2 separate regions of the Homo sapiens genome follow, and region 2 is linked to region 1. The links come from fine-mapping of genetic effects on gene expression. A gene starts in region 1. The other region holds a variant in brackets. All regions are shown on one strand. Distances are from middle to middle. Region 1 holds the start of BBS1 (Bardet-Biedl syndrome 1). Region 2 overlaps TMEM151A (transmembrane protein 151A).

The links. PIP is the estimated chance that this variant, and not a neighbour inherited with it, causes the effect.
Region 2: its variant is fine-mapped to the expression of BBS1 in unexposed skin (GTEx, PIP above 0.99).

What each region holds. Positions count from the first base shown.
Region 1 is chr11:66,500,379-66,514,418 of GRCh38, reverse strand. BBS1 (Bardet-Biedl syndrome 1) reads right to left here and starts at 3,784. Exons shown (of 17, transcript NM_024649.5): 1 at 3,713-3,784; 2 at 3,330-3,406; 3 at 3,180-3,214; 4 at 1-13. The coding sequence starts at 3,759. DPP3 (dipeptidyl peptidase 3) reads right to left here. Exons shown (of 18, transcript NM_130443.4): 17 at 9,645-9,807; 18 at 4,762-5,340. The coding sequence ends at 5,168. RefSeq lists an enhancer at 3,873-3,922.
Region 2 is chr11:66,292,324-66,306,476 of GRCh38, reverse strand. TMEM151A (transmembrane protein 151A) reads right to left here. Exons shown (of 2, transcript NM_153266.4): 2 at 9,813-12,155. The coding sequence ends at 10,824. Among named protein-coding and RNA genes, the nearest start is that of TMEM151A, 7.5 kb to the right of the region's middle. The variant C/GC (reference allele first, on the strand shown) is at 10,440.

The DNA of each region.
Region 1 (14,040 bases):
CCCCTACCACCAGCTGCAGGGAGAGGATGGCTCATTCTAGGCTCAGGGTCTGAAGACCTCTCCACTGACCCTCTTCTTGCCTTATTGCTGGTGCACATTCATTCATTCCTGCACCAATAAAGGCTTTGCCCTCAGGCTTTCAAGCTGCCTGACCTTGGGAAAGTTGACTAACCTTTCTGAATCTCAGGTTTCCCGCTTGCAGAATGGTGATACTTTCATGGTATGTGGTGAAAATCAAGTGAGATAATGAGTTACAGAACCTGGTAAGTGCTACTGAGGAATAAGTGGCAGTTGATGTTTTTATTATTCATTCAGCAAACATTTCTTCCACACCAGGCACTTCTAGAGAGATACTGGGACAGTGGTAGAGGTCAGTGTGGGAGGGGACGGGGACACCCATATCTGGGCTGCTGAAGCCTGGTTTCCAAATGCAGGGCAGGATGTGCTCTGTGGACACACAGAGGGGAAACAAGCTCCTTGATCTCAGCTTTCCACCCTCTAATCCATCTTCCAAGCTGCTGGAGCTGCCACACAAGCCCATTTCCCTGAATGAGGCCTGGAAGGCCTCTCTGATCTAGTTCCCAACTTGTTTCCTATCACCCTTCCCATTGCTGTGCTCCGGCCAGAAAGGGGGTACCCAAGAACTCCTGGATACTGAGCATGCAGTATATGCCAGGGACCACATCAGAAACTGCATGCATCGTTTCATTTAACCCTCTCAACAGTCTTATTATTTTTAAGCGACTGGGTCTTGCTCTGTCACCTAGGCTGGAGTGCAGTGGTGCGATCATGGCTCGCTGCAGCCTCAAACTCCTGGGCTTAAGCAGTCTTCCCACCTTAGCCTCCCAAGCAGCTAGGACTACAGGTGTGTGCCACTACACCTGGCTTTCAACAACCTTATGAAGTAGGCACCATTATTAGCCTCATTTCTCAAATGAGGAAGCTGTGTCTTAGAGAAGTTAAGTAAAAGTCATACAGCTATTAAGTGGTAGAGCTAGTTCTGTCTGAATCCAAAGCCATAGTCTTAACTACTATTTTATGTGGTAGTTATTTTATATGGGTCTCAACTTTCTAACTTCACATTTATTCTTTCCAAATATGCTATGAACTTCTAAGTCTCTGTCCTTCTGCTTGTGCTGTTTCTTCTACCTGAAATGCCTTCCCCATCCTCTCATCCTTGACTTCTTGATAGACTTCATTCATCCTTCAATGCCCAGTTCACACATTACTACCTCCTGGTGCCTCCAGACAGAATCCATTGTTCTCGTTGGCGCTCCCGTAATACTTTCTACATGTTCAATTTTAGCATCTACTCACTTCCCCACAAATATTTATCAAGTACCTACTTTATGTCAGGTACTGGACTAGATGCTGGGACTCAATGGTGAATAAACTAGCCATTAAACATTCTATTATGTGAAGATATTTAACATTTCTTTTTTTTTTTGAGATGGAGTCTCGCTCTGTCACCCAGGCTGAAGTGCGATGGCGTGATTTCGGCTCACTGCAACCTCCGCCTTCTGGTTTCAAGCCATTCTCCTGCCTCAGCCTCCCGAGTAGCTGGGATTACAGGCGCCTGCCACCACGCCCGGCTGATTTTTGTATTTTTAGTACAGACAGGGTTTCACCATGTTGTCCAGGCTGGTCTCAAACTCCTGACCTCGTGATCCACCCGCCTTGGCCTCCTCCTAAAGTGCTGGGATTACAGGCATGAGCCACTGTGCCTGGCTAACATTTCTTATTAGCTACTGTGTCTGTGGTTTCTCTTCCCTCACTATTGTAAGCCCAGAGCCAAATACAAACTAGGTATTCAATCAATATCATGGAATAATTGTCGACAGTGTATCTCCTCCTGACCACATGCTGATGCATTTCTGAGTGTAGTGTCCCCATGATGCCTGACACACAGTAGGGACTCACTATACACTTGCTGAATTACTGAATACATTATGGATAGGAATTTGGGGGCAAAAACCACTGAGTCCTATTGCACTCTCTGTGTGGGGTGGGATTCCAGGACTATCTTCTAGCCACCCACATGATATATCCATTGTGGTGTTGTTGCCCATGGTGAGGGCTGAGCTTTGGTAGAAAAAGCACAAAACTTGGAATCAAACAGACCCAGTTACAAATTCAGTAAACTTCACCTCTTTGAAACTATTTTCCCATTCACAAAATGGGAATAAATAAAATCCATGTTTATGTGCCTCCATGGAATGTCTAGTCCAGAAATGGATACTGAATCCATGCTAACTTCCTTTCTTTTATCCCAATATATTTCTCTACCTTTAAAAAACTTGTATCTTTTTAAATTTACATTTTTATTTAAAATTAAATATATGTATATATATATACATATATATACACATATATATACATATATATACATATATATACACATATATATATATATATTTTTTTTTGAAACTGTCTCACTCTGTCATCCAGGCTGGAGTGTAGTGGCATGGTCTCAGCTCACTCAACCTCCGCCTCCTGGGTTTGACCAATTCTCCTGCCTCAGCCTCCCAAGTAGCTGGGATTACAGGTGCCCATCACCATGCCCGGCTAATTTTTGTATTTTTAGTAGAGATGGTGTTTCACCATGTTGGACAGGCTGGTCTCGAATGCCTAAGCTCAAGCGATCCACCCACCTCAGCCTCCCAAAGTGCTGGGATTGCTGGCCTTAAAATTAAATTTAAAATGTAACATTTTTACTATGGAAAATTTTCATTCACATACAAAAGTAGAGAGACTCATATAATGAGTCCCCATATATCCCATTATCCAGCTTCAAAAATTGACAGCTCATGGCCCATCTTAAAATCTTTTGATAAACATCAAACGTTCACTTCCCTCCTTTTTACTTTCCCTCCAGATTCTAGTGCCCACCCCCAACCAAGGGATTTGCCCTTCCAACAAAGAAATCAGGTTAACTAAGAGGCTTTGTCTTAGTAGAATCCCCAGAAATATTTGATCTGCTTTACTTTCTGCAGTCTGTATTATGAAATCAATAAGTTCTCTTCACTTTCCATATAAAAACAAAATTTAACGCTAAATGTGCTTTTTCACAGTATATGTGAATTCCAGAGTATGCTGGGCCTATTTTCAGCCGTCAGGAAATCTCATTTCTGGGTACACCCCCCTACCCTCAACTCTCCTGGCTAGGGTGATATGCTTACCTTGTATTCCCCATCCCCATGTAAATCTGCCAGCGCTGGAAAACAAAAGGGCCAAAACCAGAGTCTCAGAATCCCAGAGGCTTCACTACAGGACCATTGTCTGACTCCCCATCCCACTAGAACCCAGGGTTCCTGGTTCCAGAGACTCACCTAGGCAGGCAGAAAAGGTGTGGATATTGGCCATTGGGTCGTAGTGCGCATCCAACCACTTCGAATTGGCCTCATTGCTGGAAGTGGGGGAAAGACAGTTGGGGAGTGAGTCCCATGGGAGGGGAAAAAAAAACTTTGAGGAAGCTGGTACAGGTCACTCTGAACATAAGGTACAGAACGTCTGGGTACAAGTCCAGGCTCCGCCACTGGCTCACCGAGCGACCTCCAGACACACATATGCACATCTTAGGCCTCGGTTTCCCTATCTGACCTCTTAAGAGTCCTTCCAGACTGCCCGAGAACAGCAGGAGCCCAGAGCCCGGGGACCAAGGGACCCTCTTTACACGGGTGGGAAAAGAGGCCTTGAGGAGCCCTGCCTTCACCTCTCAGCTCCGCAGGCGTCGGAATCCGATGAGGACGCAGCGGCCATCTTCGCAGGCGTCGTCCTGGCAACCGGCCCCGCCCTCGCGTAACGCCCAATAGTGCCCGAGCACAGGGAAGGGCGAGTACAAAGGTTCCGGGCGCCAAGCTTTCCCACCCAGGCTCAGGAGGACGCGCTGGCCACCTTCCTGGGTTGAGGAATCTGTCTCAGATTCCTCAAAGATATTTATCTTTGCTCCTTCCCAGTCAGAGCCACCTTTCCAGGCGTCTGGGTCCTACAATCTCTGGGTCAGCCACAGAGCCCTCTGGCTTCCAGGGTTGGAAAGAAGCCCCTTCTAGCATTTATGAGCAGCAAAAAGAACTCCTCCTGTCTCCATCTTCATGGTTACCCGGTTGAAAAGGACCATGTCCTGCCTTGCTGCGTTACTGTAGAGGTCCAGGCCCAGAGAAACAAAACACGAGGGTTATGGGACAAATGCAGAGGATTCTGACTGAAGTTGAGTTTGTAGGTTCCCAGAACTTTTTTTTTTTTTTTTTTTTTTTGAGACGTAGTCTCGCTCTGTCGCTTGCGCTGGAGCGCAGTAGCGCGATTTCGGCTCACCGCAACCTCCGCCTCCCGGGTTCCAGGGATTCTCCTGCCTCAGCCTCCCGAGTAGCTGGGATTACAGGCGCATGCCACCATGCCCAGCTACTTTATTTTTTAGTAGAGACGAGGTTTCACCATATTGGCCAAGCCGGTCTCGAACTCCTGACCTCGTGATCCCCTCGCCTCGGCCTCCCAAAGTGCTGGGATTACAGGCATGAGCCACCGTGCCCGGCCCCAGAACATTTAAAAATGCAAGGAATGCCACAAAGGAGAGCTGCAAAAATTGTGCTATGTTCAGCTCTGTGACTGCGTATCCTCATCTAGAGATAATGTCAACATCCTGTTGTGGAAGGGAGGCTAAAAATGGCCCTCCTTGCCCCCTCCCCAGGCCTTGAGCCCATCACTCTGCTGGGAGTAAATGAGAAGACAGGCAAAGGCAAGGAGGAGCCACACACGCCGCAAAGATGGTGGTTGTCTCTAATATTTATTTGTCTGGTTATAAAATTAATATGTGAGGAGCATTGGATTTGGTGAGAACGTTTTGAACCCTAGCTGTCACGTGCCACCTGCGGGATCTAGACCAGTGACTTCTCAGAACTGCCATTTCCTCATCTGGTAGACAGGATGGTAAGCCCTGTCTTGCTCACTCCACGTATGGCAGTGCAGATGAAATGAGATCACAGAGGGGAAGCAATTGGCAGGCTGGAAAGTGCTGACAAATGGAAGGGGTTGTGTCACCACCCTCAGCTGAGGTAGTACCAAGGTCCAAGCTCCTGCCCCTCCCCCTCCCCAGCCCCTAAATACACACACGAATGGAGGGCCACTTGCAGCCTTGGTCTGATGGAATTGGGGGCAAGGCCACACATCTTCCTCAAGCTTGGCCAGATGGGGCCTCACTGGGGCCCTTCCAGAATCGGGCATCGGCTGTGGCCAGCTGTGTGAGGATCTCCTCCAACTCGGGTCCATCCTCTGGGAAACGCTCAGAGAAGGATCGGATGAGGCCAGCAGCTGACGCCTCGTATTCCAGAAGCTGCACGTCTGAGCCTGGGGAGGAGATGGAGAGAAAACAGCAGGGAAAGGTCTGAATAGGGAAACTGAATCATCATAAAAATCTTAATAATCACAATTACAGCAGCAGCTGTTTCTTACTGAGCTCTGCCAAAAAAACCTGTGCTCTACGTTTTAGGTTAATTACTTAATTTACTCTTTACAGTAACCCTGTGAGGAAGGAAATACTACAGGGGGAGTATTAAATGCATTGCTGCTTTCGTTCATTCAGTCAATCAAATAAAGATTTAGGCTGGGCATGGTGGCTCATGCCTGTAATCCTAGCACCTTGGTAGGCTGAGGTGGGAGGATCACCTGAGGTCAGGAGTTTGAGACCAGCTTGGCCAACATGATGAAACACTGTTTATACTAAACATACAAAAAAATTAGCTGGGCGTGGTGGCATGAGCCTGTAGTCCCAGCTACTCGGGAGGCTGAGGCTGGAGAATTGCTTGAACCCGGGTGGCAGAGGTTGCGGTGAGCAGAGATCGTGCCACTGCACTCCAGCCTGGGTGACAGTGAGATTCCACCTCAAAATAAATAAATAAATAAATAAATAATAAAAGACACCAGGTGCCACACTAGGTGAAACAGATACAGTCCTTGGTGTCCTGAAGCTCACAATTCAGCAACGACTTCATCTGTCTACTGTGGGACCTGGGGCAAGTGTTGCAACCTCCCAAGCTTCAGTCTCCTCATCTGTAAAGGAGCTGCAGTGATGACATAGTCACACATCGAGGGGGTGCTCAACAAATGCTAGCCACCATGGCATCATTATCTCCGAACCTGTTTACTGATTTATTAAATGGGCTGTTCTGAGGGTCCCCTGAATACCCCCGGGAAGCACTGCCCTCAAACACACTTCAACTGCTCTACCCTCTCTGTGCACCTTGTCGTGTTCCATGACATCACAAGCTGCACAGCAGCAAAGAGCACAAGCTCTGGAGTTCAAGTTCTGGCTCTGCCACCCAACAGCTTTGTGACCGCAGGCAAATACACAGCCCCTCTGTGCCTCATTTTCCAGATGAAAAATGAGGATAATAACCATTTCTCTCTGGGTTGTTAGGAGTTAAGCCATAGAAAGCTTTTACAGCGACCTGGCTGGGTGTGGTGGCTCACACCTGTAATGCCAGCACTTTGGGAGGCTGAGGCGGGTGGATCACTTGAGGTCAGGAGTTCGAGATTAGCCTGGCCAACATGGTGAAACCCCATCTCTACTAAAAATACAAAATTAGCTGGGCATGGTGGTGGGTGCCTCTAATCCCAGCTTTTTGGGAGGCTGAGGCCGGAGAATCATTTGACTCCGGAGGTGGAGGTTGCAGTGAGCCGAGATCTCACCACTGCCTGCGGGACAGAGTGAGACTCCACCTCAAAAAAAAAAAAAAAAACTTTTTACAGTGCACCACCATCACAACCTTTGAAAATCCAACCTGTTCTTCAGATCTAGTGGGAACCACCCCTTCCTCCCCAGAACGTTCCCGGATACTCTTGAAGATGGATGCGATCTTCCCTCCTCTAAGTGTTCAGAGTTCTGTTTATATGTTTTGGCCACTCATTAACACTTCCCTTGTATGATTATGATGATGATTATTATTATTATTTTTTTTTTTAGATGGAGTCTCGCTCTGTCACCCAGGCTGGAGTGCAGTGACGCAATCTTGGCTCACTGCAAGCTCCGCCTCCCGGGTTCAGGTCATTCTCCTGCCTCAGTCTCCTGAGTAGCTGGGACTACAGGCGCCTGCAACCATGCCTGGCTAATTTTTTGTATTTTTAGTAGAGACGGGGTTTCACCGTGTTAGCCAGGACGGTCTCGATCTCCTGACCTTGTGATCCACCTGCCTCAGCCTCCCAAAGTGCTGGGATTACAGGTGTGAGTCACCGCGCCCGGCCCCCTTGTATGATTATTTATCTCCATATCTTATCATCCCCAGTGAGCTGTGATCACCTCCGGATCCCTAGTGGCTCCCCCATGGCTCGCACAGGGCTGGACATATCAAAGCAATTGAGAGTATTGTCCATGTGGCTGGCATGATTTATTAATGCACTCATTTGACAGTCACTGAGCAACTCCAGTGTGCCAGGCTGTGCATGAGGCACTGGGGTATGCTGCTCCTCCCATCATGAGAAGTGACCACCAAGAAAATGGGCAAGCGTGATGGGCGCTAGAAGAAAATGAAACTGGGTAGCAGAACAGAGAGGGACCGAAGCAGTTACTTTAGGTGGAGGGGTCAGAGACAACCTCTCTCACAGGGTGCCGTTTTACAAGGAGCGGAAGGACAAAAAGAACCAGACAGGCAAAGATCTGGAGGAAGATCATGCCAAGCAGCAAGAACAGCTTATTCAAAGGCTGTAGGAGTGGACCCAGCTCAGTGGGTAGAAGAAACAGAAAGGTCGGGAGACTGGAGTACAGTGAGCCAGAGAAGGGGTGGTGAGGCTGGCAAGGGTTGGGGCCAAATCCCAGGAAGCCTCTGGAGAGCATGGAAAAGCATCTAGAATGAGCGTCTTAATAAATGCTTTTTCCGGCTGGGCATGGTGGCTCACGCCTGTAATCCCAGCACTTTGGGAGGCCGAGGAGGGTGGATCACCTGAGGTCAGGAGTTCGAGACCAGCCTGGCCAACATGGCAAAACCCTGTCTCTACTAAAAATACAAAAATTAGCCGGGCATGGCGGCACGCGCCTGTAATCCCAGCTACTCAGGAAGCTGAGGCAGGAGAATCGCTTGAACCCGGGAGGCAGAGATTGCAGTGGGCCAAGATCGAGCCACTGCACTCCAGCCTGGGCAACAAGAGGGAAACTCCGTCTCAGAAATAAATAAAATAAAATAGCCGGGTATGGTGGCTCACGCCTGTAATCCCAGCACTTTGGGAGGCTGAGGTGGGTAGATCACTTGAGGTCAGGAGTTCGAGACCAGCCTAGCCAACATAGTAAAACCCCGTCTCTACTAAAAAAAATACAAAAATTAGCTGGGTGTGGTGGCGGGCGCCTGTTATACCAGCTACTCGGGAGACTGGGGCAGGAGAATCGCTTGAACCCAGAGGCGGAGGTTGCAATGAGCCGAGATTGTGTCACTACACTCCAGCCTAGGCGACAGAGTGAGACTCCGTCTCAAAAAAAACAAAAACAAAAACAAAAACAAAACCAACCCAAAAACCAAATAAATAAATGCTTTTTCCTCACCAATAATAGGTAGTGACTTTTTGCAAATATTATTCTATGTAACCCTCACAACTGCCCAGGACAATGCTTTTTTTTTTTTTTTTTTTTTAAAGAGTTGAGGTCTTGCTCTGTAGCATTGAACTCCTGGGCTCAAGCAATCCTCCTACCTCACTCTTTCAAGTAGCTGGGACTATAGGCAGGGGCCACCATGCCTGACTCAACCACTCTTAATTTGACTCTTGGCTCCTCCACTAAAAAGCCATAAGCCTTGTGCAAATTACTCTCTGTGCCTCAGTTTCCTTACCTGTAAAATGGGGATAACAACAATACCTACCTTATTGGGCTACTGCAAGGATTTAAAAGGTTAATCCCCAGAAAGCACTTAGAAACTCTAAGAAGGAATTCAGGTTCACGATAACATCAGCAAGCAGTCCACACTGCCTTTATGAATGAAGACACCAAAGTCTAGAAATGTCAGGTGACTAGGCCAAAGTCACAGGGTGGTTCTGAAGCTGGTGCTCTAACCTCTCCATAACACACATCATCTTAGGTATCTCAAGTGACAAGTAGCAGGAAAGATGAGTCAAGGGGTGAGAGGAAAGTGAAGGCAGTAAGGGGCTGGAACCCCAGGGGGTCTGAATACGAAAGATACAAGCACCGTGTGGCCAAGGCTCTGGAATTGTCGCTTGAGAAGGAAGCGGGATGATGCAGCTGTTGATCACCATCCTGGATGTGACCGAGTCCACTGTCCCCTGGGTTTCACTAGGCTTGCTGGATCCCAGCTCCCTCCTCACCTGACCCCCAGCCTGGGTACCCAACAGGTCTAATTCTTTGGTATGAACGCCTGGCTTCCCCCTAAGTCTGCATGTTCTGCTATCCCCTGCTCTGGTGGTCTTCTTCAAATCTTCTGTCACTGTCTTACAACTTGCATGACTGTGTGTGTGTCGGGGGGGTGGTGGGTGGTGACAGATACCAAGATAAGGGCCTGAGGTTTGGCATGGGAAGGACCTTGGCAGAAAGGGAAGGGCCATCCCAGGCTGGGTTAGGTTCTTATTGAGCCCTGGGATGGGTTCTTACTGCTTCCCAGAGGGCCCTGTGTGGTGCTCATCAAGGGAGCTCAAGAGCTCCCTCATTACCTCATTACCTTCAAGGCGAGTGTTGGGCTGAACAATGAGCTTCCGAGATTCCTTACGCAGCAGCACCGTGTCCCTGAGGGTGAGGAAGCACTCGGGGGGCGCATCAGTGACTGTTGCATACCCCTCGTACAGGGCCCGCCCTCCGGCCACATCCCCTGTGGACTTCAGCACCTGTGAGAAGGATGGAGTAAATGTCTAGGATGGGCAGTTACCCGGTGTCCACAGGGCTCTGCCATAGGCCACAGCTGATTGTGGTCAGCCCTGGACAGTCTGTGCTATGGTTTGAATGTGTCCCCTCCAAAATTCTGGTGTTGAAACTTATGGTTAAGTTTCAACTTAACCATTAAGGCTCCTTCCTCTTGAATGGGATTAAGGCCCTTATAAAAGAGGCTTCAGGCTGGGTGTGGTGGCTCACACCTGTAATCTTAGTACCTTGGGAGGAGGAGGCAGGGGATCACTTGAGCCCAGGAGTTTGAGACCAGCCTGGACAATATGGCAAGACCATATCTCTATGGAAAAAAAAAGGCCAGCCATGGTGGCTCATGCGTGCAATCCTGGGCACTTGGGGAGTCCGAGGTGAGAGGATTGCTTGAGTTTGAGACCAGCCTGGTTAACATAGTGAGACCCCGTCTCGTCTCTAAAAAAAAGGAAAAGAAAGAAAGAAAAAGGAAAACAGGCTTCATGCCTGTTTGGCCCTGTTGCCATTTTGCTTTCCACCATGTGAGGCCACAGCATTCCTCCCATTCCTCTCCTACAAATAAGGTATCTTCAACAAGGTATCATCTTGGATGGAAGAGAAGAGCAGCCTTCACCAGAAAATGAACCAGCTGGTACCTTGATCTTGGACTCCCCCACCTCCAGAACTGCCAGAAATAAATTTGTGATCTTTTTTTTTTTTGAGACAGAGTCTTGCTGTCACCCAGCCTGGAGTGCAATGGCACAATCTTGGCTCACTGCAACCTCTGCCTCCCGGGTTCAAGTGATTCTCCTACCTCAGCCTCCTGAGTAGCTGGGACTACAGGTGCGTGCCACCACGCCCGGCTAAATTTTTGTATTTTTAGTAGAGATGGGATTTCACCATGTTAGCCAAGATGGTCTCCATCTCCTGATCTCGAGATCTGCCCCGCCCCGGCCTCCCAAAGTGCTGGGATTACAGGCGTGAGCCACCATGCCTGGCCAATTTCTGTTCTTTATAAATCACCCAGCCTCTGGTATTTTTGGTGTGTTACAACAGCACAAGACAGACTAAGACACTCTGCAAAATGCTGGGCCCTGTCACTTACAGGCAGTGTAACCTTGGACAAGTTACTAAACCACTCTGACCTGTTATCTCTAAACAAGAATAGTTCTACTCTCTCATAGTGTTACTGTGCTGAATGAGTGAGAAACACAGATCAGTGATTAGCATAGAGTAAATGCCCACAAAATTAAAGCTAATGTTTCTCGTTTGATTATCTCATTTGACATGTAGACAAGGCAGGTATGACCATTACCCTTTATAAAATAAAACATTTCTGGCTGGGCACGGTGGCTCATACCTGTAATCCCAGCACTTTGGGAGGCCGAGGCAGGCGGATCACCTGAGGTCAGGAGTTCAAGACCAGCTTGGCCAACATGGTGAAACCCTGTCTCTACAAAAATATAAAAACTAGCCAGGTTTGATGGTGGTGCCTGTAGTCCCAGCTATTCAGGAAGCTGAGGTGGGAGAATCGCTTGAACCCAGGAGGTGATGGATGCAGTGAGCCAAGATTGCACCATTGCACTCCAGCGTGGGTGACAAAGTGAGACTCCATCTCAAAAAAATAATAAATAAATAAAATAAAACATTTCTTACACATACAAGATACAGTATGTATACCGTAAAGAATATTAAAACAAACACTCGGGCCGGGCGGGTGGCTCATGCCTGTAATCCCAGCACTTTGGGAGGACGAGGTGGGCGGATCATGAGGTCAGTAGATCAAGACCATCCTGGCTAGCACTGTGAAACCCCGTTTCTACTAAAAATACAAAAAATTTGGTTGGGCGTGGTGTCTCACGCCTGTAATCCCAGCACTTTGGGAGGCCGAGGCGGGTGGATCACGAGGTCAGGAGATCGAGACCATCCTGGCTAACATGGGGTGAAACCCCATCTCTACTAAAAAATACAAAAAATTAGCCAGGCGGGTGCCTGTAGTCCCAGCTACTCGGGAGGCTGAGGCACGAGAATGGCATGAACCTGGGAGGCGGAGCTTGCAGTGAGCTGAGATCACGCCACTGCACTCCAGCCTGGGCGACAGAGTGAGACTTGGTTTCGAAAAAAAAAAAATTAGCTGGGCATGGTGGCACACGCCTATAATCCCAGCTACTCGGGAGGCTGAGGCAGGAGAATCTCTTGAACTCGGGAGGCAGAGGCTGCAATAAGCCAAGAACTTGCCACTGCATTCCAGCCTGGGGGACAGAGCGAGACTCCCATCAAAAAAAAAAAAAAGACGGACACTCATACAACCCCCACCTCACCTCAGAGTTAGTTCAGCTGCTTCTGCTTGACTGCACTCTGTGGCTGTCCCCATCTAAGGAAACCACTATCCTTGATATTGTACTTTCTTTTTTTTGAGATGGAGTCTCGCTGTTGCCAGGCTGGAGCGCAGTGGCGTGATCTTGGCTCACGCAACCTCCACCTCCCAGGTTCAAGCAATTCTTCTGCCTCAGCCTCCTGAGTAGCTGGGACTACAGGTGTGCACCACCACGCCCAGCTAATTTTTGTATTTTTAGTAGAGACGGGCCGCCATGTTGGCCAGGATGGTCTCAATCGTTTGACCTCATGATCTGCCCATCTTGGCCTCCCAAAGTGCTGGGATTACAGGCGTGAGCCACCGTGCCCAGCCGATATTGTAGTTTTTAAAAAACTCTCTTGCTTTCCCTGAGTTTTACTCTCAATCATATATTAAGTTCTTGCCTGCTTTTTTTTTTTTTTTGGAGACAAAGTCTCAGTCTATTACCCAGGCTGGTGTGCAGTGGCAGATTATCAGCTCACTGAAACCTCCACCTCCCAGGTTCAAGTGATCCTCCTGCCTCAGCCTCCTCTGTAGCTGGGACTACAGGCACCTGCCACCATGCCCACCTAATTTTTGTATTTTTAGTAGATGTGGGGTTTCACCATGTTGGACAGGCTGGTCTCGAACTCCTGACCTCAGGTGATCCTCCCGCCTCAGCCTCCCAAAGTGCTGGGATTACAGTGGTGAGCCACTGTGCCCGGCCGGTTTTTGAACTGTATATATTGTGATTTTCTTTTTCTGCTTGGATTATGTTTGAGATTCATTTGTGCCAAAACATTCAGCTATAGTTCCCCTTCTCACTGCTGTGTATGTAGTCTTTTACTTATAAACACACAACTTCATCTCCTCTACTGTTCATGTGTAATTTGGTGCTTTTTTTTTTTGAGACGTAATTTTCACTCTTGTTGCCCAGGCTGGAGTGCAGCAGCACGATCATGGCTCACTGCAATCCCCACCTCCCGGGTTCAAGTGATTCTCTTGTCTCAGCTTCCCGAGTAGCTTGGAGTACAGGATGCGCCACCATGCCTGGCTAACTTTTTTGCACTTTTTTTTTTTTTTGAGACAGAGTCTCACTCTGTCGCTTGGGCCGGAGTTCAGTGGCACGATCTTGGCTCACTGCAACCTCCACCTCCTGGTTCAAGCGATTCTCCTGCCTCAGCCTCCTGAGTAGCTGGGACTACAGGCAAATGCCACCATACCCGGCTAATTTTTTATTTTTAGTAGAAAAGGGGTTTCACCATGTTGGCCAGGCTGGTCTTGAACTCCTAACCTCAGGTGATCTGCCTGCCTCGGCCTCCCAAAGTGCTGGGATTACAGGTGTGAGCCACCATGCCCAGCCTTTTTGTACTTTTAGTAGAGATGGGGTTTCACCATGTTAACTAGGCTGGTCTGAAACTCCTGACCTCAGGTGACCTGCCCGCCATGGCCTCCCATAGTGCTGGGATTACAGGCGTGAGCCAGTGCGCCCGGCCGGTGCTTTTTGCTAATAATGCTGCTGTGAACATCCCTGTATGTCTCCTGATGAACAGATGCAAGTTTTTCCAGAACTGATTCTGTGTCGGTGACAGGAGTGCTCAACTTTAAGAGATGACGCTGCTGTTTCTTAAAATTCGTATGTAATTCAGCCTTCCAAAAGCAGTGGATGGCAGTCCTCATTGCTCAGTCTACTAAGTGGATGCTGGCAGTTGTTAATTCCTGCCATGCTGGTGGGTATCAATTGTAACTTATGCAGTTTAGGTTGAGGTTGCCTAATTACTAACAAGGTTGAGCATCTTCCCTTAGTTGATCAAGGGCTATTCATTTTCCTCTTCTGTTCATTTTTGCTTATTTTATGTTGGGTTATCTTTTCTCCTTCACTTTTTTAAAA
Region 2 (14,153 bases), 210 kb after region 1:
TGAGTCACCACGCCCGGCCCACTTTTGCAGTCTTTTATAGCACAATGTTATTGTCTTTTATAATGTATTGTGCTTTTTTCTTTTGAGACAGGGTCTCACTCTGTCACCCAGGTTGGAGTGTAGTGGTACAATCATGGCTCACTGCAGCCTCAACCTCCCAAACTCAGGCGATCCTCCCACCTCAGCCTCCCAAGTAGCTGGGACTACAGGCGTGTATTTTTTGTACAGACAAGGTTTTGCCCTGTTGGCCAGGCTGGTCTTGAGCTCCTGACCTCAAGTGATCTGCCTACCTTGGCCTCCCAAAGTGCTAGGATTATAGGCATGAGCCACTGCGCCCAGCCTGTATTGTGCTTTTATAACACATAAATTGAAACTATTCTACTGAAAAAAGTATTCGTATTTTGGTCCGTTTTATTTTATATGTTTTTTAAAAAGAGAAGAAAAATACATCTATGGCCAAGCGCAGTGGCTCATGCCTGTAATCCCAGCACTTTGGGAGGCCGAGGTGGGTGGCTCACAAGGTCAGGAGATCGAGACCATCCTGGCTAACACAGTGGAACTCCGTCTCTACCAAAAATACAAAAAAGTAGTGGGGCGTGGTGGCACACACCTGTAATCCCAGCTACTCGGGAGGCTGAGGCAGAAGAATCACTTGAACCCAGAAGACGGAGGCTGCAGTGAGCCGAGATTGCGGCACTGGATTCCAGCCTGGGTGACAGAGCGCGACTCCGTCTCAAAAAAAAAAAAGAAAAAAAGAAAAAAGAAAAATACATCTATCTTTTGGACTGTGACCATGGGTTACTGAGAACTAGCCAATTTCAGTCTCAGCTGATATTCTGGACAGAAATGCCTCCTTGGAGCAGATGTGGCACAGCTACATTTGATATGTAGTCATCAGTTTAACCAATCTGTCTGTCTTGGTCTCTGTTGAATCTGACTTCCAGGAGCTTTGACCTTTACCCAGAAGGGCAGCAGCGCACCTTCCCCATCCTCACTCAGGGTGTATCCAACTTTTGGCTGGATGCCTGATCCTCCTTGCCCTTTCCAGATACATCCCAGGCCATCTCAGCAGTGACTTCATACTCACGGGCTCTGAAGAACAGAAGGCAGCAGGTGTGATGTAAGAGGGAAGATGAAACTCACAAAAAATGAATGCACCTGGGCCTGCCACCTCGGGGAAGCTCTAGGGGTCTAGTGGTCTGGGGTCTGGATCCAAGGAGGAAACATAGAATGCCATGGTTTGCTGGATTAGGTAGTTGGCAAATGCTTCCCTGGGTGCCCTAAGTTCTCAAGCCCACTAACCAAAGATCAGAAAAGCTCCACTGCAAGTGTGGCCAAGCAATGAAAACTTTGGCTGGTCTGGGCCGTGGTCCACTTGGCCCTCAGGACCCAGCTAACCCCAGGAAGTTGGAAGTGTTGGTAGGAGATCGGGAATCATTCACTTAACACAGATTGACTAGACATCCATTATGTGTGCCAGGCACTGCGCTGGCTGCTGGTGAAGTGTGCGTATGTTGTAAGAGGGAGCGTCCACTTGTAATTTATAATAATGCAAATGATGATGATAGCAATCTTTATTGAGCACTTCCTATGCTTGAGACCCTGATTTAAGCACGGTCACATAGTATCTTTTAAGAAAATATTTATTGGCCGAGTGCAGTGGCTTCTGCCTGTAATCCTAGCATTTTGGGAGGCCGATGCAGGTGGATCGCCTGAGGTCAGGAGTTTGAGACCAGCCTGGCCAACATGGTGAAACCCCATCCCCACTAAAAATACAAAAATTAGCCAGGCATGGTGGCACATGCCTGTAGTCCCAGCTCCTTGGGAGGCTGAGGCAGGAGAATCGCTTGGACCCAGGAGGCAGAGGTTGTAGTGACCCAAGATCATGCCACTGCACTGCAGCCCGGGAGACAGAGCAAGACTCCGTCTCAAAAATAAATAAATAAATAAGAGAGCCTTAGATAAGGCCGTCTATAAGATTAGATGGGGAATAAATAAATATTTAAAAATATATATTTATTTATAGGCCGGGTGCAGTGGCTCACATCAGTCATCCCAGCACTTTGGGAGGCCAAGGCAGGTGGATCACTTGAGGTCAGGAGTTCAAGACCAGCCTGGCCAACATGGTGAAACTCTGTCTGTACTAAAAATACAAAAAATTGCTGGCCATCGTGGCTCATGCCTGTAATCCCAGTTACTTAGGAGGCTGAGGCAGGAGAATCTCTTGAACTTGGGAGGTGGAGGTTGCAGTGAGCCAAGATCTCACCATTGCACTCCAGCCTCTGTGACAGAGCGAGACTCTGCCTCAAAAAAAAAAAAAAAAATTTGACTGGGCACACAGTGGCTCACACCTGTAATCCCAGCACTTTGGGAGGCCGAGGTGGGAGGATTGCTTGAGATCAGGAGTTTGAGACCAGCCTGGGCAACATAGGGAGATCCCATCGCTACAAAATATAAACATATATAGCTGGGCATGGTGGCGTACACCTCTGGTCCCAGCTACTGCAGAGGCTGAGGCAGGAGGATCTTGTGAGCCCAGGAGTTTGAGACTAGCCTAGGCAACATGGCAAAACCCTGTCTATGAATTTAAAAAAAAGTATATATCTCTATCTATCTATCTATCTATCTATCTATCTATCTATCTATCATCTATCTATCTGTCTATCTATCTTTTTTGAAATGGAGTCTCATTCTGTCACTCAGGCTGGAGTGCAGTGGCGTGATCTTGGCTTACTGCAGTCTCCACCTCCCAGGTTCAAACAATTCTCCTGCCTCAGCCTCCCAAGTACCTGGGACTATAGGCACACACCGCCACACCTGGATAATTTTTGTATTTTTAGTAGAGATGGGGTTTCACCATGTTGGCCAGGATGGTCTCGATCTCCTGAACTCGTGATCCTCCCGCCTCAGCCTCCCAAACTGCTGGGATTACAGGTGTCAGCCACCGCGCCCGGCCTGAAGTAAATAGGTTCTATTGTCATCTCTCATTCTGCAGATGAGAAGACTGAAGAAGAGAGAGAATAAGTGACTTGCCCAGGGCTTCTCAGGTTGTAGTGGAGAGTTGGAATTATTCCAACCAACTCAAGGGTCTGGCCGTGTAACTATTCGCCTCCCATGGCCTTGATTCTTTTTTTTTTTTTTTTTTTTTTTTGAGACAGAGTCTTGCTCTGTCGCCCAGGCTGGAGTGCAGTGGCGCCATCTCGGCTCACTGCAAGCTCCGCCTCCCAGGTTCACACCATTCTCCTGCCTCAGCCTCCTAAGTAGCTGGGACAACAGACACCCGCCACCACGCCCCAGCTAATTTTTTGTATTTTTTTTTTTAGTAGAGACAGGGTATCACCGTGTTAGCCAGGATAGTCTCGATCTCCTGACCTCATGATCCGCCCGCCTCGGCCTCCCAAAGGCTAGGATTACAGGCGTGAGCCACCATGACCAGCCCCATGGCCTTAATTCTAATAGAAGAAACAGATAAAGAAACTCGTGCATAAATAAATGAAAATAATTGTAACTTATGGTGAGTGGCCGAAAGGAAATGCAAAGCGAGCTGAGAGTTGGTGGGAGAGAACTTTAGACAGAAACCAATGGGGACGTGATTTGATTTACATGAGGTCTCTGCATAGGCCGCAGGAGTAAGTGGGCGTGGGAGGCCTGTCGGAGTCATGGGGGAGGAATCCTGGGCACTTGGAGCAAGGTGGCTTGGGGTGGAGAGGAGGTGGGGTGTGTTGTGTTCTGAGTAGAATCTTGGGTGGTCGATATCACGCGTGGTGGGGCGGGTGAGGGGAGCTGACGAAATGCTACAGCTTCTAGGTCTTCTTCAAATAATCCAGTTGGAGCTCAAATAAGTGGGGCTGAGTGTGGATGGAGCCCAGAGTGGTTGCAGGTGGATGATCATCACAGCACTGGGTGCTGAGTAGAAGGGGCCTCACTGCACCAATCTTTCTGCTTTTGTGATGTTTGAAATTTTATTTTATTTTTTAGAAAAATTAGCCAGGTGTGGTCGTACACACCTGTAATCCTAGCTACTCGGGAGGCTGAGGCAGGAGAGTCACTTGAACCCAGGAGGCAGAGGTTGCAATGAGCCAAGACTGCACCATTGCACTCCAGCCTGGGTGACAGAGCGAGACTCTGTCTAAAAACAAAAAACAAAAAAAAAAAGAAAGAAAGATATTTTATTTTATTTTTGAGACTAGAGTCTTGCTGTGTCACCCAAGTTGGAGTGCAGTGGCACAATCACGGCTCACTGCAGCCTTGACCTCTTGACCTCCCAGCTCAAGCGATCCTCCCACCTCAGCCTTCTGAGTAGCTGGAACTACAGGTGAGCTCCAACACACCTGGCCAATTGTTAACTTTTTGGTAGAGATGGGCTCTCACTATCTTGCCCAGGCTGGTTTCAAACTCCCAAGCTCAAGTGATCCTCTCACCTCAGCCTCCCAAAGTGCTGGGATTACAAGCTGAAATTTTACATAATACAAAGTTTTAAAGAAAGAACAGGCCAGGCGTGGTGGCTCATGCCTGTAATCCCAGCACTTTGGGAGGCTGAGGCAGGCAGATCACCTGAGGTTAGGAGTTCAAGACCAGCCTGGCCGACATGCAGAAACCTCATCTCTACTAAAAATACAAAAATTAGATGGGCGTGGCAGCGGGTGCCTGTAATCCCAGCTACTCGGGAGGCTGAGGCTGGAGAATCGCTTGAACCCTGGAGGCGGAGGTTGCTGCAGTGAACGGAGATTGCGCCACAGCACTCCAGCCTGGGCAACAGAGCGAGGCTCGGTCTCAAAAAAAGAAGAGACAGCCGGGCGGGGTGGCTCACGCCTGTAATCTCAGCACTTTGAGGGGCTGAGGTGGGCGGATCACGAGGTCAGCAGTTTGAGACCAGCCTGACCAACATGGTGAAACCTCGTCTCTACTAAAAATACAAAAATTAGCCAGGCATGGTGGCATGTGCCTGTAATCTCAGCTACTCAGGAGGCTGAGGCAGGAGAATCACTTGAACCCGGGAGGCGGAGGTTGCAGTGAGCTGAGATCACGCCTCTGCACTCCAGCCCGGGTGACAGCGAGACTCCATCTCAAAAAAAAAAAAAAAAGAGGCGGCTGGGCGCGGTGGCTCATGCCTGTAATCCCAGCACTTTGGGAGGCCAAGGCGGGCAGATCACAAGGTCAGGAGATCGAGACTATCCTGGCTAACACTAACACAGTGAAACCCTGTCTCACTAAAAATACAAAAAATTAGCCGGGCATGGTGGCGGGCACCCATAGTCCCAGCTATTCGGGAGGCTGAGGCAGGAGAATGGCATGAACATGAACCCGGGAGGCGGAGCTTGCAGTGAGCTGAGATTGGCCACTGCACTCCAGCCTGGGCGACAGAGTGAGACTCCATCTCAAAAAAAAAAAAAAAAAAGAAGAGGCTTGCCGTGCTGGTGCCTGGCTTAGGCAACTGGCTGAATGGTAGCTCTATTTCCTGAGATGGAAGACAGAGAGGAGCAGATGGTGGTAGGGGTGGAAATTACAGGTTCTGTTCCTGCCATGCTGTGGGTAGCCTATGTCAGGAGAGAGCAGAGGCAGAGGCCGCTGGGGTTTGGGAGCCAGGCTTTGCACCCCTTCTCAGGCATGAATTCTTCTCTTGAGAACGGTTTAGAACAGAACACCTTGGCTTGATGTTGACTCCAAGAGAGTCTGAACACGTGGCCACCCCATCTCCCATCAGGAGATTGTGAGCTGAGAGCTGTCCATCAAACAATGGGGCTTCTGGGTCCCTCCTCTTCCTGGCTGTGCAGGCCCAGTGCCCTCCCTCATGAGGTGCAGGTGGGTTTAGAGCCTTGTGACAGTGATCATGTAACATGTAACAAATCACTCCAAAATGTAGTGGATTAAAACAAGGATTTATTTCCCCTCATTCTATAGGACAGCAGTCTGGGCTGGGATCAGCTTGGTAGTTCATCTGCTGGTCTCACCTTGGGTCACTCCTGAGGCTCCTGTCATCTGCGGCTCAAGTGGGGCTACAGTGTCTAAGATGGCCTCTGTCATCCCATATCTGGAGCTGATGCTGGCTCTTGGCTGGGGGCCTCAGTTCTCCACGCAGCCTCAAATCTGTCAGGAGGCTTGGCTGGACATCTTTACAGATGGTGGTCTCAGGATTGCAAGAGGGCAAAGGTGGAAGCTGCGAGAGTCCTTGAGGCCTAGCCTCAGAAGTGGGCCAACATCTCTTCCCTCACATCCAATCAGTCACAGCAAATCACAAGTCCAGCCCAGATTTAAAGGGCGAACAGATTCCACTTCTTTTCTTTTCTTTTTTTTTTTTTTTTTTGTGAGATGGAGCCTTGCTCTGTTGCCCAGCCTGGAGTGCAGTGGCGTGATCTCAGCTCACTGCAACCTCTGCCTCCTGGGTTCAAGTGATTCTCCTGTCTCAGCTTCCTAGGTAGCTGGGACTACAGGTGCACACCACCACGCCCAGCTAATTTTTGTATTTTTAGTAGAGTTGGGGTTTCACCATGCTGGCCAGGCTGGTCTTGAACTCCTGACCTCAAGTGATCCACCTGCCTTGGCCTCCCAAAGTGCTGGGATTACAGGCGTGAGCCACCGTGCCCGGCCTGATTCCACCTCTTGAGGAGAGGAGTGGCAAAGAATTTGTGGCCATATTTAATCTACCATAGGCCTGAAGGTCCCCATAAATGATCTGAGCAGCTCACTTTGCCCTGAGCAGGCCCATATCTGACATGCCACCACCTTCCTTCCTTAAACCAGCACTATAAAGAGCTTGGTGTTCATTTTGCAGATCACTTTACAGGTATCAATCAGTTAGGAATGGCAAATGGCATTTGGCTCAGCAGTTGATTGCATTTTTGAAGATGACCACTAATATATCTCCCATCCCGCATGCTTTTCTAACAATGTGACATTGACAAGCCTCCACAGAGAGATGAGATCCTATATTCCCTCCCCTTGAAACTGAGTGGACCTTCATAGTAGCCTTGACCGATGGAAAGGGGCAGAAGTGATGCCATGTGACTTAGGAGGCTAGATCACAAAGTGCAATACAGCTTTCACCCTCTCAGTATACTTGTTCTTGGAACCTAGCCACCATGTTATGAGGAAGGTCAAGCCGCTTGGAGAGGACCTGTGTGGGTGTTCCCACCAACAGCCCTAGTTAGGCTCTCAGCCCTCAGCCCTCAGCCAGCATCAACTGCCAGACATGTGAGTGAATGAGCATTCAGATGATTCAAGCCCCAGCTTTTGAGTCTTCCAGCAGAGGCCCTGGATGTCGTGGAGCATAGAAGCCATCCCCATTGTGTCCTATCTGAGTTCTTGACCCACAGAAGCCAGGAGAGAGCATAATAATTATTGCTCTTTTAAGCCACTAGGGTTAGGATAATTTGTTATGTGGCAGTAGATAATTGGTAAAAGCTGCTGGTAACAGAGACAAAAAAAAAAAGCAATGGGCTTAAGCAGACTTACAGTTTATTTCTCTTTCTCATTGAAGTCTGGAGGTAGGCGACCCAAGGGATGACATGGAAACTTGCATGGTGTCATCAGAAGCCCAGGATCTTTTCCCTTGTTGCTCTGCTGTCTTCAGCATGTGGCTACAATTTTCTTTTTCTTTTCTTTTTTTGAGACGGAGTCTTGCTCTGTCGCCCAGGCTGGAGTGCAGTGGCGCAGTCTCGGCTCACTGCAAGCTCCGCCTCCCGGGTTCATGCCATTCTCCTGCCTCAGCCTCCCAAGTAGCTGGGACTACAGGCGCCTGCCACCTCGCCTGGCTAATTTTTTGTATTTTTAGTAGAGACAGGGTTTCACCGTGTTAGCCAGGATGGTCTCGATCTCCTGACCTCGAGATCCGCCCGCCTTGGCCTCCCAAAGTGCTGGGATTACAGACATGAGCCACCGCGCCCAGCCTGTGGCTACAATTTTCAAGGTCATTTCCTGCTCCAAGATGGCTGCTGGCGTTCCAGCTATCACATATGCATCCAAGGCTGAATGCAGGCTGAAGCAGAGAGGACAAAAATGGCCTTCATCAATACTGCTTCTATTCAAGGGGCATTCTTGGAGATCCCTTCCAGCACCTTCTGTTTATATCTAATATCCTAGAATTCAGCCACACAGTCATACCATATATGCCAGGGAGGCTGGAAATGTTGCCCTTTAGCTGGGCACATTGCCTTCTGCAGCAAAACTGGGGTTCTGTTATTGGGGAAGGGAGGAGAATGGACAGTGAGTGGCCAGTGGGCAGTTGTTGGCTATGGTGTTAGAGCAGAATGGTGGAAAAAGGGTCTTTCCCATGGCAAGGAGCTGAAACCAGCATGCTGGCCTCCCTACCTGCTGGAGCCTTTTTTTTTTTTTTTTTTTTTGACAGTCTCAGGTGGAGTGCAGTGGCGCAATTTCAGCTCACTGCATCCTCTGCCTCTCGGGTTCAAGCGATTCTCCTGCCTCAGCCTCCTGAGTAGCTGTCACAGGTGCCCGCCACCACACCCAGCTAATTTTTGTATTTTTTGTAAAGACGGGGGTGGGGGGTGTCTCACCATGTTGGCCAGGCTGATCTCAAACTCCTGACCTCAAATGATCTGTCTGCCCCGGCCTCCGAAAGTGCTGGAATTACAGGCATGAGCCACTGTGCCTGGCCACCCCCTGCAGCCTTGTTGAATGTTTGGGCACCACAGGGTTTTCCACCTAATTTGCTTCTGAACGAGGAACTGATTTCACACCCAAAGAAGAGAGGCTGTGGGTTAACGCACAGGGAGAACTCTGGTCTTTCACTCCACCCTCCCGACAGAGCCAGCAGGTCGCTGGACTTTTGCTAAATATCCTAAAATGCAGCCTTGACTGTATCACGTCCCTGCCCAACCCCCTTCCATGGTTCCAGATTGCCCAGTTTGCTCCAGTTTAAGGACAAATTCTAGGGTTTGGCATGGAAGCTGCAGCAAAGCCTTCCATGGCTTCTTGCTTCTATCTCCTTGTCACACCTCAGCTCATGCCCGACAACCAGGCCTTTGTCTGGGCAGCATCGGCTGTCCAAGACATTGCTTGCCATGTCTTTGCTTAGTGAAATCCACCCATTCTCAGCACACTTCCCGGGCCACCACTAGCCCTTAAGCCACCTTTGCGTGAAAAGGAAAACGGTCCCCTTTCTCCAAGTGGATGTAGCTCCATGCCAGAGTTTGGGGAGTGGCCTGTAGGCTGGATTCCATGCACGCTTGCCCCTTAGCCCACTGCCCTTGCACAGTGAACACCCTTTACTGCTGCACATGTGACAATGCCACGTCCAGGAATCTTTCAGAGCTCCATCAGGGAGTCAGGACCTTCCTTTTCCCTGATGTTTTCTCTGCCTTTGGATTCCATGCCAGCCTGCCCTGGTTTGGGGCTGCCCTTTCCAGCTTTGTGTCTTCTGACCTGCTTCATGCCCTTTCCCTCAGATTGATAATGTCAGTAGCCGCTGGGGGGGCACCGAATTCGAGTCACAGACCATAGCTCTTTCTCCCCACTTTGGGGACCGGCCACCACTCCCTTAGCCCTCGGCATGCCCAGCAGCAGAGTGGAATGTCCCACTGAGCTGGAACAAGGGCCACCTTGACAATGCCTTAGCAGTGACCCAGGCCCAGATACCGGAGTCAGGGGAGCCAGGTGCTCAGAGCGCCTCACACTTGAGTCTCAGAGGCCCCAGGCTAGGCAGGGGAGGTTTCCTCTCCTCTGCTTACTTGGTTCCTGGGAACACTGGAGCCCAATTCTGAGTCCCTTCCCAGAACCCCTCATCGTGCCCTGAACCATGGGGGCCCATAATGCTTGCAGTGGAGGCCTTAGACCCATGACCCAGGAATGCACAGGCCTTCCATTCCATACCTTTATTTAATCTGCATCTTCTCAGCCTCCTCCCTTCCCCGCCACCCCTTAGAGGGCGTGGAAGCCCTCGTTGAAAGGGAAGGAACTCCTCTCTCCTCCCTGGGGGAGGGTCAGTGTCCCCTGGGCCAAGACTCGTTGATGGGAGAAGCAAGGGCCTGCGTGGTGGAGCAAGGACATCATCCAAGAGGCTGTGGCCAAGGCCCAGCCCCTCGGATGCCCTCTAGGCCTGGGCCCCATGGATCATCAGGAAAGTGAAGAGTAGATAAGTCCGGGAGGGCAAGGAACGGGCGTCCCTGCGTGTGTGTGGCTGATGGAGGCAGACATGGACTTTGGGAGGCAGGAGCAGAGGCCAGGGGATGTGGGGACCAGGTGAGGCCCTGAGAAGGAACCCCAGGTTGTAGGGGTAGCTGCATGTGGGGGGAGTGACTGGCCCTGAGCAGCGGGAGAGAGGGCAGGCAAGGAGGAGGGGCCTATCAGGGGAGGATGGGAATGTTGGGTGAGTAGCAGGGCCAAGGCCATGGTGCCACCACAGCCAGCTCTTCAGCCCCAGGGAAGCCAACCTGGCTGGGCATGGCCCCAAGCCTCCAATTTGTGCTTCTGCGTCACTGGGGGGG[C/GC]TCCCAGCATGGCCTCAGCCCCGGTAGGGAAGTGTCCACAGGCAGCCTCTGCTGCAGGCAACAGCTGGCCGCAGGACTCCTCCTCCATCCCAGCCTTTCTGGAAGCTTCTTCTCCTGCCCTTTGTGAGAGGCCTTCAGGCCAGATCATCGGCCATCTTGGGGGATGAAGCCATGCTGGGGGCGATTCTTAGGCTTCCACTTCCTCCAAAATGACCACAGGTAACTGCATTTTAGTCTGTTTAAGGACCCCCACCCCCACCCTCACCCCTGCCCCTTGTGTGTGGCTGGTCTGTTTTCCCGCCTGTTTTGGACAACAATCACTCGGGCATCTAAGCCCATGGTGGAATGGTGGGGAGGGGGCCACTCTGGGGGCCGTGGGGGGTCTCAGAGAGCACCCTGCCCATCCCCCTGGCAGCCGCTGTCTCCGTGGACAATGAGCACCGGGAAGTAGAGGGCGTCCTCATAGCAGGGCGGGCTCTCCAGGGGTTCCGTGTCCTCTCCACGGCGCCCCAGCGGCCCCCCGCTCAGGCTGCGGAAGACCCCTGGCGTGGCCCGGCCGCCAGCGCCCAGCGAGAGGCGGCTGCGGCTGAAGGGCAGGCGGGGCCCGCTGGGCCGGGCGGGGGGCAGCGAGTTGCTGCTGACAGAGCGGCGGCAGCGCTGGCAGCCTCTGAGGTAGGCGCCCGAGCCCGCGCCCATGACCACGGCCTCCGAGTAGCTGGGCACCAGCTGCCGGTTGGAGCAGATGTGCCACTCGAGCTCAGTGAAGTCCACTGTGGCCACGCGGGACAGCGGGGGCCCGCTGGGCACGGCCCCCGGCGGGGGCGAGCTGGCGCCAAAGAGCTTCTCCACCTGGTAGTGCACGTGAGCCGTGCCATAGGCGGCCACGACGCGCAGGGGCCACGACAGCGTGGCCGCCGACACGAGCCAGAAGACCCAGGCGCGCGCGTACCAGGGCGGGCTGCGGGGGTCGGCGAAGACCATGAGCGACTCGCGGAAGTCTACGTCCTTCAGGTGCATGCCCTCGCGCGCCTCCAGATAGTCGTCCAGGCCCTCGTTGGCGCTGAAGAAGCGCGCCCGCTGCGTGAGGTACGAGGCCTCGGCCTCCGCGCTGCCGAAGCTGAAGCACTTGGTGAAGCGCAGCCGCGTGGCCGCGTGCTCCGCCAGCCCCACCAGCTCCTTGGAGACGTCGCGGACGCCGTGCGCCGAGTAGTCAAACTCGCCGCGGGCCGTGCGGCTGTCAGCGCGCTCATGGTACACCTGCGTGGTGGTGTAGGCGTCGCCGTTGCGGTAGCGCGTGATCTGGCGTGTGCGCCGCACGTAGTGATAGCTGGTGGCCTTCCACCAGACGCACGGCGGCGCCTGCTGCAGCCGGCGGATCAGCGCCAGCACCGTGTGGGCGTCGGTGCGTGGCGCCTGGCAGGACCGCACGTGACAGTGCCAGCACTCAGCCAGGTAGAGGAGGTAGAGGAGGGAGACGAAGGCCAGCGGGATGTACAGGTAGCCATCGGAGCAGGGGCTGGCCGGGTAGGTCGGTGGCGGGCCCCCGGCTCCCCGGGCCAAGGCGGCCTCGGGCCCCAGGACCAGCCGCGGCACTGTGGCCAGGCGACACCAGGCCACCACGGCCCCGCAGGCGTGGATGAGCAGCGTGAGGAGCAGGCACTTCCAGTGCGACTCGCGGCACAGGGAGCTTCCCAGGGACTGTTTCAGGGGCCGCTGCTGCAGGTGGGCAGAGAAAGGGAAGTCTGTGTCAGGTGGGGCCATCAGTGGGGCCTGCCACTTTGCTTAACCCGGCTGAGGAAGGTGATACCGTGAGCCCCATTTTACAGAGGAGGAAACTGAGGCTTAGAGGGATGAGCAGCTTGCTCCAGGCTTCACATTTCCAGCTCACTCACAGTGGCGCTGCATATTCAAACCCAGGACTCGCTGCCCCAAACCCATCCTCCACTGTGCCGTGCTAGCACTCGGCAAACCGCACACAGGAGACAGCAGGCCCACCTCAGCCAGGAGGGATGGATCCTTGCACTGGCTATTGTGGGTTCTGGTCCTGGCTCTGCCCTGATTTGCTGTGTGGACTTGGCTATATCTCTGCCCTCTCTGGGCCTTGATTCTTGGTCCTGTTGGTTTGGGAAGCCAGGGTGGAAGGGGTCTGAGGTGTAAACAGCATGGGCTTTGGAGTTCCACTGCCCAGGAGCCAGTGCTGGCTCCACTACTTACTGTATGACTTGGGCAGGTCCCTCATCCTCTCTGGACCTCAATTTCCTCATCTGTAAACTGGTTCTATTGTGAGGATTCAACAAGATCATATGTGTGAAGAAGTGAGCACAGGGTCTGGCCATGGGAATAAATATGATCACCATTACCCTGAGACTCCCTCTGGTCCCTTGTTCCATAGGGACTCAGAAGTCTCGGCAGAGGCTTTTGAGTTGATGAGAAAGAGGGAGCCTCAAGAACGGGGGAGGTGCGAGTCTTGGGGTGGGGAGCAGATGGAGGGCCATCCTCCACTCCCCATCTGTGCTGAGCAAGGGGGTGGGACACAGCTACTGGGCAGCAGGGGCCACTCCCTGGCTCAGAGGGCTTGCCACACCCTCCCTGGCAGGGCTGCCAGCCTAGCCACCTCACCCTCAGGTGCCATGGAGAGAGAAGCAGGTAGGGATAAAGTGGGGCGAGGGGAAGGGTAAAAAGGGGAGGAAAAAAGTGGAAACAACAAAAGGGGGGTTAAGGGGCCACCTCTCCTACCCCAGACCTACCAGGCCTCCAGAGGCCCAAGAGGAGAGGAACCACCCCCTAGCCCAGCCCAGATACAGCCTGTCCCCATCACCCAGCATGGGAGCACAGCGCCAGCTGACCTGCAAGGCCTGTCAGGTGCACACACACTTGTCCACGCCCCTCCAACACATGCTCATCACAGACCCACCCACCGTGGAGGGCCACACTGCCTGTCACCCAGGAAACTCCAGACCCTCGCCTGTCCCCAGGGCACAGACTCCCAGAACCGTAGCATGGTACACACACATACACACACACACGCACACACCACATACCCATCCACCACAGGACACACACGTGCACATACACGTTGCACGTGCAGTGAAGCCCAGAGACATACCAGACCTTCACCTGACCACAGTGCACATCTCCCCACCCCCCACTGCAAACTGACCCCCAGGCTCCTCAGACTCCACAGGGAGAGACCTGCCCACAAAGGGACTCACTCACATGCGCACACCTAGACCACTGGGTGACAACCCGAGCCAGGCACCCACTCGCCCCTCACCTGACTACAGGGCGCACACACCCAATTCACACACCCACACAACACACACACAGAAGCAGGCTACATTCACCCAAATGCATGCACAGCCCCACTCACCACCCTATCACCCCACACATCACTCGGGGCCCCAGGTCCTGCAGACCTTCCTGGCTAGGGCTGAGGAGGGGCCGTCGGGGGTCCCAGCCAGCAGAATGGGCCCTCAATCCTCACCTCGAGGACAAGGAGAAGGGGTACCCAGGCGCCTCCCTTCCTCTTCCCCTCCTCCCCTCTAGGCTCTGCGACTGCTGCTGCATTGCAGGCGCTGCCCGGACACCTCGTGAGCGGCTGGGCCGGGCTGGGGACCTGACCCCGCGGCCCTGGGGGTGGGGGCAGCATCCCCCGCTGCGCTGCGGCACTGGGACGCGTGGGGGCCAGGCACTGACGTCACAGGACGGGCGAGG